2 separate regions of the Homo sapiens genome follow, and region 1 is linked to region 2. Evidence: fine-mapped expression QTL. A gene starts in region 2. The other region holds a variant in brackets. All regions are shown on one strand. Distances are from middle to middle. Region 1 holds the start of RAB3IL1 (RAB3A interacting protein like 1). Region 2 holds the start of FADS3 (fatty acid desaturase 3).

The links. PIP is the estimated chance that this variant, and not a neighbour inherited with it, causes the effect.
Region 1: its variant is fine-mapped to the expression of FADS3 in whole blood (INTERVAL, PIP 0.94).

Annotation. Positions count from the first base shown.
Region 1 is chr11:61,917,397-61,920,295 of GRCh38, forward strand. RAB3IL1 (RAB3A interacting protein like 1) reads right to left here and starts at 170. Exons shown (of 10, transcript NM_013401.4): 1 at 1-170. The variant G/A (reference allele first, on the strand shown) is at 1,468.
Region 2 is chr11:61,890,185-61,893,083 of GRCh38, forward strand. It overlaps FADS3 (fatty acid desaturase 3), which reads right to left and starts at 1,361. Exons shown (of 12, transcript NM_021727.5): 1 at 985-1,361. The coding sequence starts at 1,197. RefSeq lists enhancers at 1-381, 382-1,070, 660-829 and silencers at 1,030-1,159, 1,260-2,069.

The DNA.
Region 1 (2,899 bases), 27 kb after region 2:
TTCCCAGCGCCGCCGCGTCCTCCCAGCGCCGCGTCCCCGCCCGCCGCCGACTCCGCCAGGGGCCGAGCCGCCCCACCGCCTGTCAGCCCTGCCCGCGGCCGGTCAGTAGGTCTCAGACGCCTGGGCTCGCGGCCCCCAGCCCAGCCCCGACCCTGCCCTGGGCGGGTCACGTGGCGGAGGGGGGAGCGGCCCGAGGACACGTGCCCGGCCCCGCCCCTCCGCCGGCCCGGCGCTGGGATCCGGCGCGCGCTCCCAAGGCCTGGCCCCACCCGGCCCGCCGCGCCGGGACAGGGAGACCACGGCGCTCGGAGGGAACCCGGCCCCCAACATCCCGCGGGCCGCGCCGCGCTCAGACTCCCCAGCTGACTCCTCCTCTCCAGTCGCCCTCCGCACCACCCACTTTGGGCCACCCCTGCTCAAGAACCTACAATGGCTCCCGAGCTCTCAGCTCTTCGATTCTCACACAGATTGTCACTTAAGGCCAGCAGACACCCTCCCCCCTCCTCACCCGGCCCTCCTTCCCTAGGCTGTCTGCTTAGTGCCTGTCCCTGTGCAACATCCTGCCTGCTGGGAAGGGGAGGGGACAAACCCGAAACAAGTTTTCTGAGTCCTACTCTCTGAGTTTTATCCCGAAGGAGTTTCCACTTCTGGTCCAACTCTCCTCACTCAGCCTCCTGCCACTTAACACGCTCTGCCCATCCCTGCCTTTACTCACCATCTGCCCTCTGGATAGTATTCCCCACCCCACCCCCACCGACACACACACATACACACACCTGTCTGGTCCCACATCCTCCGTGAAACCTTCCCTGAATCCCAGACGACTGGTCTACCTGTCCCTCAGTTCCTCTGTCCCACCCATTCTGAGTCCTGATCATTCGTCTCAACTTCAGCCTGGGACTGGACCAGTAAGAGCAGAACCCGTCTTCTCTCCCGCCAGGTACCATGGCTCCCACCTTCCCTGTCTAGGGGAGGACTGGGAGCGTGGTGGGAGGTACTTCCCCTTCTAGGTGCTACCAGAGGTCCCAGTGCTACCCCTCCAGGCCCACTGACTCAGGCCGCAGGCTCAAGTTAGTCAGATCTTCGTTTGAGGATACATTTTATTCATTCATTCTACTCATTCATACATTCAGCCACTCCATCTGAGCATAGACTATGGGGCATGCAAGGGGCTGGGGACCCAGCAGGAAACTGTACAGACATAGGTTCTGCCCTCCTGGGGCTCCACGTTGGTGGAGGATGGAGGATGGGGGACGTATTCTCTAAGACCTCCACGTCCAGGGCACAAATAGACAATGCTCTTTCCCCGCTGGGCACAGCGCACAGCAAGGTATGGAATCTGGAGAGTGGAGGCGAGGCTGGATTCTATGCCTTGCTTGCTCCCTTGGCCAGCACTTTGTGCAGTGAACAACCTAGGCAGTTCTCCATAGCATCCCTTCCAACTTTCTAGAATCATTCAGCCCAGGC[G/A]TCCCATAGCCATCACTCAGCAGGGCAGTTGTTTCCATGGCCACGGCTTCCAGAGGGCAGGGATTCTCTCTTTCTTGGAGCTATGTTCCCCTACCCCACCCCCAGCCCAGCTCAGGGTCTGGCCCACCCAAAGCAGATGTCCACATGTGTTTGCTGGCTTGAATCCCTCATCAGTTGGTCTTGAGCAACTGTTGTCTTCCTGGCCCTTATTTTGTTCACTATTTAGAGAAGGAGGAGAAAATGACACAAAAGGAACCCAGCACAGGGCCCTTGCCCTCCAAGTCTTCACAAGCCCCGGCAGGAGATAAGTCATGGCAACCCAGACCAGTGGGAGATAAAGGGTGGAGGAGGCGTCAGCTCAGGGCTATGTCCCTGGAGGAAGAGTCCTCAGCCTGGGAGGTCTGGTGGACCGGGGAGGCCCTTGAGCGAGGTCTTGAAGGACAAGTCTGTGGTCACCACTCTGGAAGCATCCACACTCAATTTCTAACCAAAAATAGCCTGTCATCCATGCTTCCTGCTACCATGGACTCCTAGGGCTCACTGCCTCCCCCAGTAGGGAGGACCCTCCTGCTCAGCTGAACTTGCTCCTCAGTTGAAAAGGATGGGCTCGGAGAAGTTAAGGAACCTGCCTGATATCACACCAGCCAGGGGCAGTGGGGCTGAGTCCTCTTACACCCGTTTTCCAAAAAGACCACCCAGAAACTAGAGGCTCACTGGCAGCTGCAGCTGTGTGCAGCCAGGCAGCAAGAGGTTCCTGAGCACATGCTAGGTGTCTGGCCAGTGGCAGGGAAGGGATAAATAAAAGTTGTGTCCTCTGCCTACAAGCCACTGCCCTCCTCAGCCTCCCTCCCTCTATCTCCCTCTGCCTGCTCCATCCCAAGCCTGGCAGCCTTGACCACAGACCCTTGGCTGAAGGCAGCTGAGGAGCAGGAGACAGTCAGCCTGGACAACCCAGGCCCTGATTCTGGACTTACAGGTGTGTCCTCAGCTCACTGTGTGACCCAGGATGAGTGTCTTGCCCTCTCTGAGCTTCAGTCTCCACCTCTGTACAGCCACCAAATTGGACAAGACAATCAGAGCCATTGCCTAGGACTCTCTGAGCCCAGCTTCTCACACTGGCTGCCCTGAAGCTTGCCAAGACTCCCCCTCCCCTCCATGCCCCAGGTCCTGAGCTCACCTGTCTGTGCCCCAGGGCTCTTCTCTCAAGTTCCCCTCAAGTACAGGGCACAGGCCTGATGGGGCGTAGCGGACAGTCCCTGCACTCATGGCCAGGAACACGGGACATGTCCCTCGGGCGGGGCACCCAGCGTGCTCCTCAGAAGAGTCCATGCTTGCAAGGCCAGACTGAGGGTCCCTCTGGAGGGTGCCGGGAAGGGAGGTAGCAGGAGCCTTCTTCCCCCCACCAGGCTGAGCCTCACACTAACCTTTGCTA
Region 2 (2,899 bases):
GGGGTGGAAGGGGAAAAGAGGGGCTTTCTTCCTCAAAGAGTCCAGTGAAGATTGTCCAACATGCTGGAGATGGCAATCGGCAGAGAGCAGGTGGCCCTGTCAAGAGGGACGCCGACAGTCCTGGGACTGGACAGAACCTCCGCTGCTGCCCAAAAAGCCAGCATTCAGGATTCATGTCCTCGGGTCTTGAAGACCTTCCTGATACCCAGTGTGGCCAACCTAGAAATTTGGAGGGTCAAGGACAGGGCATCGTGGCCCCAACCCCTATTATGCAGGTGGGTAACTAAGGAAAAGGGGCTGGTCGGGCTGCTCCACCACTGGACTCCAGCCAGACAGTACCCTGGGGCCAGGCTACATCCCTGCCTGTCTAGACAGGGGCTGGGATTGGGAAGTTGGGGTCCCCAGGGGCCAGCCTGTTCCTGGGGTGACTGTGCTTCCAGGAGAGGCCCACCCAGCCTGGCTGGCAAAGCCCTCCCACGTGCAGCTGCTAGCCCGGAGAGGTGAGTCACTGTCCCTGAGCCCTTTACAGAAGCTCTTGGGAAAGCCACAGACCTCAGGCCGGCCCAGCCCCCAGCCTCTAATGGCATGTCCTTACCGGCCCCTGGGGACCCTGCCCTGCCCTACCCCTAGCACTCAGCAAGCACCCAGCATGGGGACCCAGAACTGAAACAGGGACCTGGGAGCAACAGGGCAGCCCCTCACCCAGGGCAGGCTCTGCAGCATGACACACCCACCTCTGAGGCCCCCTCCTCCCCCGCAGACCTGCTCCGTGGACAGCTGCGGGTCCTCCACGCAGGGAACTGCCCTCCCTACCCCACATCTGGCCCTGGCTAGTCCACCCCAACTCTGGGTCCCGGCGTGGAGGTCAAAGGTCAGCGAGGGGAGGGAGGATGCTAAGGCCCCACAGGTGGAGCGGGACATCACGCCCACGACCGAGCTCCAGGCTCCACCCGCCGGTGGGTGGCTTCCTTATGGCTTCCTTACCGTGGCGTCCTCAGCGCCGTGGTGGCCGATGAGGCGGCTGCCCCCTGGGTGCCGCTGTGCCCAGCGGCTGATGTCGTAGACGCGGCGCTCGATGACCAGCCACTTGTCGCCGGGCTGGTCGTGCGCGCGGATCTGCTCCCAGCAGAAGGTGGGCAGCGGCGCCCCCGGCTGCGCGGGTCCCTCCCGCGGTCCCGGCTCCCCGACGCCGCCCATGCTGCACGCACGAGTCCTGGGGATCCCAGGCGGTGGCCGAGGTCCGAGCAAGACCCCGAGGGAAGCGAAGAGCGCTCCCGGGCGCCGCCTCCGCCGCCGCCCGCTGCTCCGGCCCCGCCCTGCCGCCGCGGCCGCCGTACGAGCGAGCGTGCGCCTCCCGGCTCGCGGCGCAGGGAACTCCCCGCCTTATAACCGCGCGGACGGCGCCCGCCTCGCCTCGCCTGCCCCCCCGCCCCCGGCCAGGCCCCGGCCCCCAAGGCTGGCTGACCCCCCGCGTCCGCTCCAATCCAGGCGCGGGGCCTCGGTCTCCATTGGCCGCCAGGGAGGGCGGCGTCGAGGCGGCCCGCCCCTCCCGGGAGGACAGCGGCCGCCACCCAGCCCTGCCCCGGGGCACCGTCCCGCCCCCTTTTCCCGGGCTGCCGGCTTCCAGGTTCTTGACTCCACCCGGAGCGCGGGGCCTGGGGACACAACACGCACCTGTTGGGCGTCCCGCAGCGCCTCGCCACGCCCTCGGGAACCGGAGGCGGAGTCCCGGTCTGTGAGCAGCGGGGCCTGGGGGGCTTCCAGCCGCGCGTCCTGCAACGTCAAATCCAGTGCGCCCAGAGGGGGGACGCTGTCTCGGGGTGCCTGTGAACAGCCTTCAAACCATGGGCCCCAATCTCTGCGGGGCCCCCACCGCCGCTGCAGCTCTCTCGGAGCCCTCTGCTGGGGGCGGGTGGCCTCCCCTCCGCCCTCGGCGCTGCAGGGCTGGGGATGCCCAGGGGTGGCCAAGGGGGAGGTAGGGGAGCAGGAGGGCACTGGCGCGTGGAGGCGGGCGCTGCCATCCATGGGCTGAGGACACCTGTGCTTGTTACTGCTTCCCCGCCCCTCTTTTTTGTTTTGAGACAGGAGTCTCACTCTGTCGCCCAGGCTGCAGTGTAGTGGCATGATGTCGGCTCACTGCAGCCTCAACATCCTAAGCTCAGGAGATACCCCCACCTCAGTCTCGGGAGTCCCCAGCTGGGACTACAGGCGCGCCCCATCATACCCGGCTAATTTTTGGTGTTATTTTATTTTTGTAGAAATGGGTCTTGCCATGTTGCCCAGGCTGGTCTTGAACTCCTGGACTCAAGTGACCCTCCCGCCTCCCAAAATGCTGGGATTACAGGCATGAGCCACTGCACCCGGGCCCCATCCGCTTTTTTTAATTTAAATACATTCAAGTCCTTTTGAAAGTGTAGGTAGCTCCCCTAATTGCTTCGGATTTCTTTGTGATAAATATACCTGTTCCTAAAAGTTAAGCGTTCACAGCAGCAAGGAATTCAAATCAGGCTAAAGTTACTTCCAGAGCGCTGGTCGTCAATCTTCCATCAGAACCACCTGAAAGGCTTCCATCAGAACCACCCAGGAGGGTTATTCGGTGGGTCTGGTGTGGAGGCAGAGACTTACATGGCCAGTTCACAGGTGATGCTGACCGGCTGGTTGGGGAAATGCACTTAGAAAACCCTAAGTATATTTCTCTGATATGCTAATATTTTGTCTTGGTCTAAAGAGGACCAGTATCCCCAGAAGGGCAGAGGGGGCGAGTTCTCCCTGGTACCAGGAGCTCCTGCCTTTGCTTGTCAGGACATCCAGCAAGGCCCATGATGTCATCAGGCACCGGGGCTGCCTGGGCCCTCTCCACTGAGGCACCCACTGACCATATCCTGGAACCCCAACCTGG